2 linked regions of the Homo sapiens genome follow. The protein of the gene in region 1 interacts with the protein of each later gene in a pairwise test. Each region holds a gene or a part of one and is shown in the gene's direction. Other genes may lie near its edges. The genes, in order: CHFR and TRIM9.

The links.
Region 2: the proteins of CHFR (region 1) and TRIM9 interact in a two-hybrid assay, tested with the Homo sapiens proteins (one large-scale study listed by BioGRID and IntAct).

The regions. Positions count from the first base shown.
Region 1 is NC_000012.12:132,856,549-132,860,367, reverse strand, and holds part of CHFR (E3 ubiquitin-protein ligase CHFR), read left to right. Parts: intron 1-1,140; coding exon 1,141-1,300; intron 1,301-2,808; coding exon 2,809-2,963; intron 2,964-3,737; coding exon 3,738-3,819. UniProt on the Homo sapiens protein: E3 ubiquitin-protein ligase that functions in the antephase checkpoint by actively delaying passage into mitosis in response to microtubule poisons.
Region 2 is NC_000014.9:50,983,419-50,987,237, reverse strand, and holds part of TRIM9 (E3 ubiquitin-protein ligase TRIM9), read left to right. Parts: intron 1-1,071; exon of another isoform or gene 1,072-1,093; coding exon 1,094-1,282; coding exon of another isoform or gene 1,283-1,314; exon of another isoform or gene 1,315-3,816; coding exon 3,817-3,819. UniProt on the Homo sapiens protein: E3 ubiquitin-protein ligase which ubiquitinates itself in cooperation with an E2 enzyme UBE2D2/UBC4 and serves as a targeting signal for proteasomal degradation.

The DNA.
Region 1 (3,819 bases):
CTTGGCTCAGCAGTGAATACTTGCATAAGCATAATAATACAAATACAGTATCATGAACTAATGTAATCTGTTAATGTAATGTTGGCAGGGGTGTCTCAGGACAGAGTTTTTCTCTACCTTAATAGATGTCAGGAATGATGTCTAAAATTGATAAATCAAATGTACCATGATAACTTAGAAACACAGAGGTAAATACCAGAAGAAACAGCTCAAAGACATGAAAATAGTTTTCCTCCGAGGAGGGAAATTGGGTGAGGAGCGGCTGAGACGGAGGGTGACTGCCTTTGTTTTCTTCTAAATATATTATGTATACATTTTTTTAAGAGACAGGATCTTGCTTTGTCACCTAGGCCAGAGCGCCGTGGTGCAGTCTTGGCTCACTGCAGCCTCCACCTCCTGGGCTCAGACTGTCCTCCCACCTCAGCCTTCCGAGTAGCTGAGACCACAGGTGCACGCTACCATAGCTGGCTAATTTTTTTTCCCATTTTTTTAGAGATGGGGTTTCATTATATTGCCCAGACTGGTCTTGAACTCCTGGGCTCAAGCGATCTGCCCACCTCAGCCTCCCAAAGTGCTGGGATTACAGTTGTGAGCCATTGCACCTGGCTTCTTCTAAATACTTGGCTTTTTAAATTGTGTACAGTTTCTTTAATTAAAAATAAAAATTAATTGATTACCAACATCTGAGCATTATAGAAAAATAAAAACACCAGAAGAGGGTGGGGCGCGGTAGCTCACACCTGTTACCCTAGTACTTTGGGAGGCCGAGGCGGGTGGATCACGAGGTCAGGAGATTGAGACCATCCTGGCTAACACGGTGAAACCCTGTCTCTACTAAAAATACACAAAATTAGCCGGGCGTGGTGGTGGGCACCTGTAGTCCCAGCTACTCAGGAGGCTGAGGAAGGAGAATGGCATGAACCCGGGAGGCGGAGCTTGCAGTGAGCCGAGATCGCGCCACTGCACTCCAGCCTGGGCGACAGAGCGAGACTCTGTCTCGAAAAAAAAAAGACTGCATGTATTTCCTTCTCGGTTACGACAGTTAGAACACATCCCTTTCTCCTGTGGACGGGGACCTTGACCTGAACCTGCGTGTATTTCCTTCTTGGTTACGACAGAACACATCCCTTTCTCCTGTAGATGGGGACCTTGACCTGAACGGGCAGTTGTTGGTCGCACAACCGCGTAGAAATGCCCAAACCGTCCACGAGGACGTCAGAGCAGCGGCTGGGAAGCCAGACAAGATGGAGGAGACGCTGACATGCATCATCTGCCAGGACCTGCTGCACGACTGCGTGAGGTGCGACCGTGTTCACCCTTGGCTCACGGAACATGGCACTGCAGGTTCTTCGTCCCGTGTGGGGCAGGGCTGGGCATGAGACAAGCCTGCAGGTCCTGTTTGGCCTGGCATCTGCTGAGGTTACTCTGTCACCCAGATAAGTGGGTGGAGTGGGTGGAGTGGGTGGAGCTTTCTCAGCCCACTGCAACCTCTCCCTCCCAGGATTGAGCGGTTCTCTGACCTCAGCCTTCTGAGTTGCTGGGACTACAGGTGCACACCACTATGCCTGGCTGACTTTTTTTTTTTTTTTAATGTTCTAAATATTTTTTATTCCTTTTTTTTTTTTTTTTTTTTTTTTTTTTTAGATGGAGTCTCGCTCTGTCACCAGGCTGGAGTGCAGTGGCACAGTCTTGGCTCACTACAACCTCAGCCTCCCGGGTTCAGACGATTCTCCTACCTCAGCTTCCTGAGCAGCTGGGACTGCAGGCGTGTGCCACCATGCCCGGCTAATTTTTTTGTATTTTTTAGTAGAGACAGGGTTTCACCATGTTGGCCAGGCTAGTCTTGAACTCCTGACTTCAGGTGATCTGCCCACGTTTGCCTCCTAAAGTGCTGGGATTATAGGCGTGAGCCACTACTCCCAGCCACCCTGCTGATTTTTGTGTTTTTTGTAGAGACGGTTTCGCCATGTAGCCCGGGGTGGTTTTTTGTTTTTGTTTTTGTTTTTTGGAGTTAGAGTCTCGCTCTGTCACCCAGGCTGGAGTGTAGTGGTGTGATCTTGGCTCACTGCAACCTCCACCTCCCAGGTTCAAGTGATTCTCCTGCCTCAGCCTCCCAAGTAGCTGGGACTACAGGCATGCGTCACCACATCTGGCTAATTTTTTTGTATTTTTAGTAGAGACGGGAGTTTCACCATATTAGCCAGGCTGGTCTCGAACTCCTGCACTCAGGTAATCTGCCCACCTTGGCCTCCCAAAGTGTTGGGATTACAGACGTGAGCCACCCCGCATGGCTACCACTTTCATTCTACTCGTGGCACCAACAAGGAGGAAACCTGGAACCCAGAGCCGGAGGCTGTAGACCCCACAAGTTTTGAGTGTGTGGGTCGTGTGTGACCCCGTGAACTCTGCAAACAGATGAAAGGAACTCTGCACATTTTAAATGCTCCTTATCTGGGAAGGTGTATTTCGCATAGAATGAACGTAGGAGCCGCTGAGGAAGGGCCTCCTTGCTTTTCCGCGGGAACTCAAGAGTGACAACCTTCCAACTTCTGGGCCAGAAACACTTGCTGTCTCTGTTGTTTGTGTTCCTGAAGTCATAATCTACTCGCCTCTGTCTTTCCTGAAAACACAGAGGCCGTGTGGCCTCTGATTTCTTTTCATTAACCAAGACTGACTTAAAGGGTTTTTAGGTTGAACGATGGCTGGGCCCCTGTAGGCCCTTCCGTGGTGGGGCTGCTGCGGACCTTGGTCGAGGGTCGCGGTTGCATCTGTGGGACTGTCTGGACACTGTTCCTCTTGCACTTTCAGTTTGCAGCCCTGCATGCACACGTTCTGCGCGGCTTGCTACTCGGGCTGGATGGAGCGCTCGTCCCTGTGTCCTACCTGCCGCTGTCCCGTGGAGCGGATCTGTAAAAACCACATCCTCAACAACCTCGTGGAAGCATACCTCATCCAGCATCCAGGCAAGTGAGGGCATCCACACCAGCACCCGGGCACGTGAGGGCGGTCCCTCCACCACCACCCAGGCACGTGAGGGCATCCACCCAGCAGCACCCGGGCACGTGAGGGCTGTCCCTCCACCAGCACCCGGGCACGTGAGGGTGGTCCCTCCACCAGCACCCGGGCACGTGAGGGCATCCACACCAGCACCCAGGCACGTGAGGGCGGTCCCTCCACCACCACCTGGGCACGTGAGGGCATCCACCCAGCAGCACCCGGGCACGTGAGGGCTGTCCCTCCACCAGCACCCGGGCACGTGAGGGCTGTCCCTCCACCAGCACCCGGGCACGTGAGGGTGGTCCCTCCACCAGCACCCGGGCACGTGAGGGTGGTCCCTCCACCAGCACCCAGGCACGTGAGGGCATCCACACCAGCACCCGGGCACGTGAGGGTGGTCCCTCCACCAGCACCTGGGCAAGCGAGGGTGGTCCCTCCACCAGCACCCAGACAAGTGAGGGCGGTCCCTCCACCAGCACCCAGGCAAGTGAGGGCATCCACACACCAGCACCCAGGCATGTGAGGGCGGTCCCTCCACCAGCACCCGGGCACGTGAGGGCATCCACACCAGCACCTGGGCACGTGAGGGCAGTCCCTCCACCAGCACCCGGGCACGTGAGGGCGGTCCGCCCAGACCCCTCCTTCCGCAGCACTGCGCACGCGAGCTCCCAGCAGTGTGAGCTGTGTCTGCCTGCCATGTCTCACTGCCGGTGAATGGCGCTGTGTCCTTTCAATTCTAGACAAGAGTCGCAGTGAAGAAGATGTGCAAAGTATGGATGCCAGAAATAAAATCACTCAAGACATGCTGCAGCCCAAAGTCAG
Region 2 (3,819 bases), on another chromosome or scaffold:
TGATTCAAACCAGAAAAAAATTCACGGAAATACCCTCTGGTCACAGAAACAAAATTATTATTTCAATGAGAAGAAAGTTCCTTTGTGATTTTGGACATGGCATATTACCTTCCTACCATCTGTATTTCCTAAATTATTGCTATTAGACTGAATGTTAAGAAGGCTTCAATTGGCGAAAGATCCACCTCTGACTAGACCACACCGTGCATAGAACCAGCTATTGTTTGACAAAATAGAAAGGACCAATTTTAGTAATTCAGAGAAACTAACTCATGCCCTTCTAAAACCAGATCAAATAATTGTTAAGTCTTTAGTCTGATATAATAATTATCTTCAGGCCAAACCTGACTATCTGAACAGAAACAGATATTTTGCCACCAATGCACCTCACCACTGCCTACAGTCTGTTTATCATTAGAGAAACAAAGATGGTCAAGTGACATCCCTAGAGTCTGATCATAATTCAGAAACAAAGGTAAGGCTCTTTCCCTGCTTACTTGTCCAGCCCTGTCTTCCTTAGACCACCCCACATTTCCTCTCCTATTCAAAGATAGAGTCTGGAGTGTGCTAGTATAAAAAATCAGCTCATCCATCTAATAGAAAAATACACATTAGGAGAGAAATGGGAAAATATGGAATAGGAAACAGTTTGTAAAAAATCACCATCTCTTAGATAGAAACCCTTTAAGAGGCCATTGTTGAATAGGTAGTAACTCCCAGGACAACTGAAGGGGGTAAAATAATATCCTCTTGGTCATCAATAGGTAAAATTTGCCTTTACATTTTGTACATTCAATTCTAAAAGTATTTTATTTAATTAAAAGGAAACCTTCCAATTTTCTACCACTAAAAATCGGGAAAGTGACAACAATTGCCTTTGTTGTTCGAGGTGTCCTCTGGTCTTGGGTCCTGATCTGCCGAAAATTCCCTCCCTGCCCCCAGGCACATTGGTTTTGTAAATGCCTGAGTGTGGCACCCTGTGGGAAAGATGAGGCTTTGTATGAATGCATTGTTAAGGCAGGTCTTGGGGAACCGTGCACGGGGACATAATAGCAGACTTCTGATCTCTAGTTTGCATTGATCTTACATTTAGACACAGATTCAGAAGAACAGACCCTCCCTTTTCCAGTGCCTTCGGAAAGATTGCCGCTCCGTAGAATGAGTCCTTTCTCCTCCACCCTTAATCTACAACCCAGCTTCCCCGGGAGATCCTACTTTGATTTCCGATCCTCACCCCACCAGCTGAGCTTGCATTCCTCTTTACAGTCTCTCAATGCACCGGGTGAGCTGAGCTCCTCAGACCTTTCCCCTTGATCTCTGTGCCTTGAAGGCATCTCTGAAACGCGTGTCTTGTTCTTGCCATTCATGTGCGTGGTGAGGGGGATGAGCTAGTCTCTGTCTGTGGCCTGCTTTCCGTATGAGGAGCATCGGGATGGTGGAGCTTTGTGGCGTTCTTGTTTGTGTGGTGGAAGGAGCAACCATGGAGCTGTGGTCCATGTATTACGGCATTAGAAAGTGATGAGTGAAGTTATTCTTTTCGCACAAGCTGGTACCACCATGGATAACCCGCTCTGTCATCACATGCAGTGGCATAGCACGGCACGGGCGCTGGCTGAGTGGCGGCCATGGCAGTAATGTGGAGGTTTGCAGCCCTTCTGTATCCAGGAAACCAGCAGTGTCTGGGAGACTGGATCAGTGCATCCAGCCTGGAGTGGTCTGATTAAACATAGACTCAAGAGATCTTTATTGACAAAGTACAATAAAAGTAAAAACACACCAACAGCAGAAAGCATCCTATAAAGCAGGCAATCCAGAGAGCAGAAAGTGAAAGCATTTTCTGCAAAAGCCTGTGCTCACTGCTAGGACAGTGGGGCTCATGGCTGAGTGTTTTCCTAGCAATGGGGTGGGATCACTGCTAGCCGAATTAGAAACCCTTAACTCCTAATGCCTAATGACCAAAGATCTGAGTAATCAAAAAGTCTGGACTCCTCGAAGTTTCCCACAGCCAAGCTGGTTGTGACAGAGCCTAAGGCTGATTTCAGCAAAGCTAGACTTGTGTTCCTTTGTAGCGAACACTGCCTAGCAAATAGAATGTTAAAATATATAAGATGCAGACCTATTTGATCTCTTCAGGACTATATTGTAATCATGGATACACATGATGCACATTTCATATTTCCAAAGGTTTCTTTTGGTTTTTATTTTATTCTTTTTGCTCATCCCACATTCTGGAATGAAGAAGGCCACAGCATGACAGTGCAAAAAGGATGCAGGGACTTCAAGCTGTCTTTAAAATGACATTCTTCTTTGTGCTTTTATGTTTCTTATTGTTTTTCTGTGCACTATGGCTTCCCAACATGCTTTGTTATGAAACTCTTTTCCCTTGTGTCTAATGTACTGAAATATCGTTACAGTCTTTGTAATGCACATTGTCTCAAGAATAAAATGAAATGTGAGTTTTGGGATATTTGATGGGTGTATTTAAGAGCATTATTCTAGCTGTATTGTTGAATCTTAAATGTATGATAATGTATTTAAAGTAGTGTAAAAAGATTTCAGAATATTTGTTTTGAAAAAGAGTTGCACAAGGCATGATTCATTTAAAAGTTTTTAAAGCCCTATTCAGATTCTACAAACTTATTTCCAAGCTGAATATGAGAGTCGGTTTTAAAACTCCAGGTATTCCATAGTCACTATGCTCTAACACATGAATAGGAATTGAAGTGATAATTGATAGAAACAAAACATAAAAATCAGCCATGAGATGGGAGGAAACGATTCTTTTGCATGTGAATTCATCCCAGAGAAAAGCAAACTAACCAAAAGTAAGATCATAATTTTTATATTTTGTTTTTAACTCAGCCATTAGTCCTTTTTTATAGTAAGTTGCTTTTTTAATTCTTGTAAAATTCTTTTAAGTCAGCACATTATCCTGCAAATGTTTTAGGAATTAGCATATAAAGGCCTTACTAAATAGAAAAGAAAATAAAATGATCCTTTCTTTATCCCCCAGTGTTCATCAAAACCACATTTTCTAGATCAGTCCTTGAAACCACTGGAAATTGTAGGTCACACACTTTTGAACATTTTAAGACTAGGCAGTCTTCCTCCACACAATGTAATTTCTCATGGGGTACAGGTATCCAAATCTTAAGGAAGGGAGATGGTTGAAAAAGTTCCACAGGGGATTCCAATGTATCTCTGAGACCACACCCACTCCTACCATCCCTCCTCCCCTCCCTCAGGTGAGAAGGATCTTGTCTCCTAAGAAGGAAAGGAGGCAGTTTTAACACATTCGTCATGTCATTATTAATAATTATTAATAAGATGTATGTATTCACAAATGGATTACATTACACATTTAGTTATATTTAATTTGGGCTCAAGTCACAATGAAGACCTTTTGGCATAACCAGAGTTAGAAGTGCATAGAATAGTGAGAGCAGAGTTTTATCAAAATCCAGTGATTTCTCCGTTGCAATTAAGTACATTTTCCCCATTTTTAAAACAGCTAGCCTTCTTACTGTGGAAACTTTAGAGGAAAAGATTGAACTTGGAAGATGAAAAATTCAGCTACAGAGTTTAGGATCAATTGGAGGAGGATTTATTAAATGGTAAAAAGATGTGCTTTTCATTTTGAAAGAGCAGAGGGGCAGTTTTTTACCCAACAAACTAAATAATATAAAAAGGGCTTTGTTTTTTCATGGATCAGGCCTCTGGTATCTATATTCAACTGGTGCTTTTTAAGCGTATACAAGTAATTTTTATCAACCTGGTTGTTGTTTCATAGCGTTGATGTGTAGTATCTCTTTATAGGAT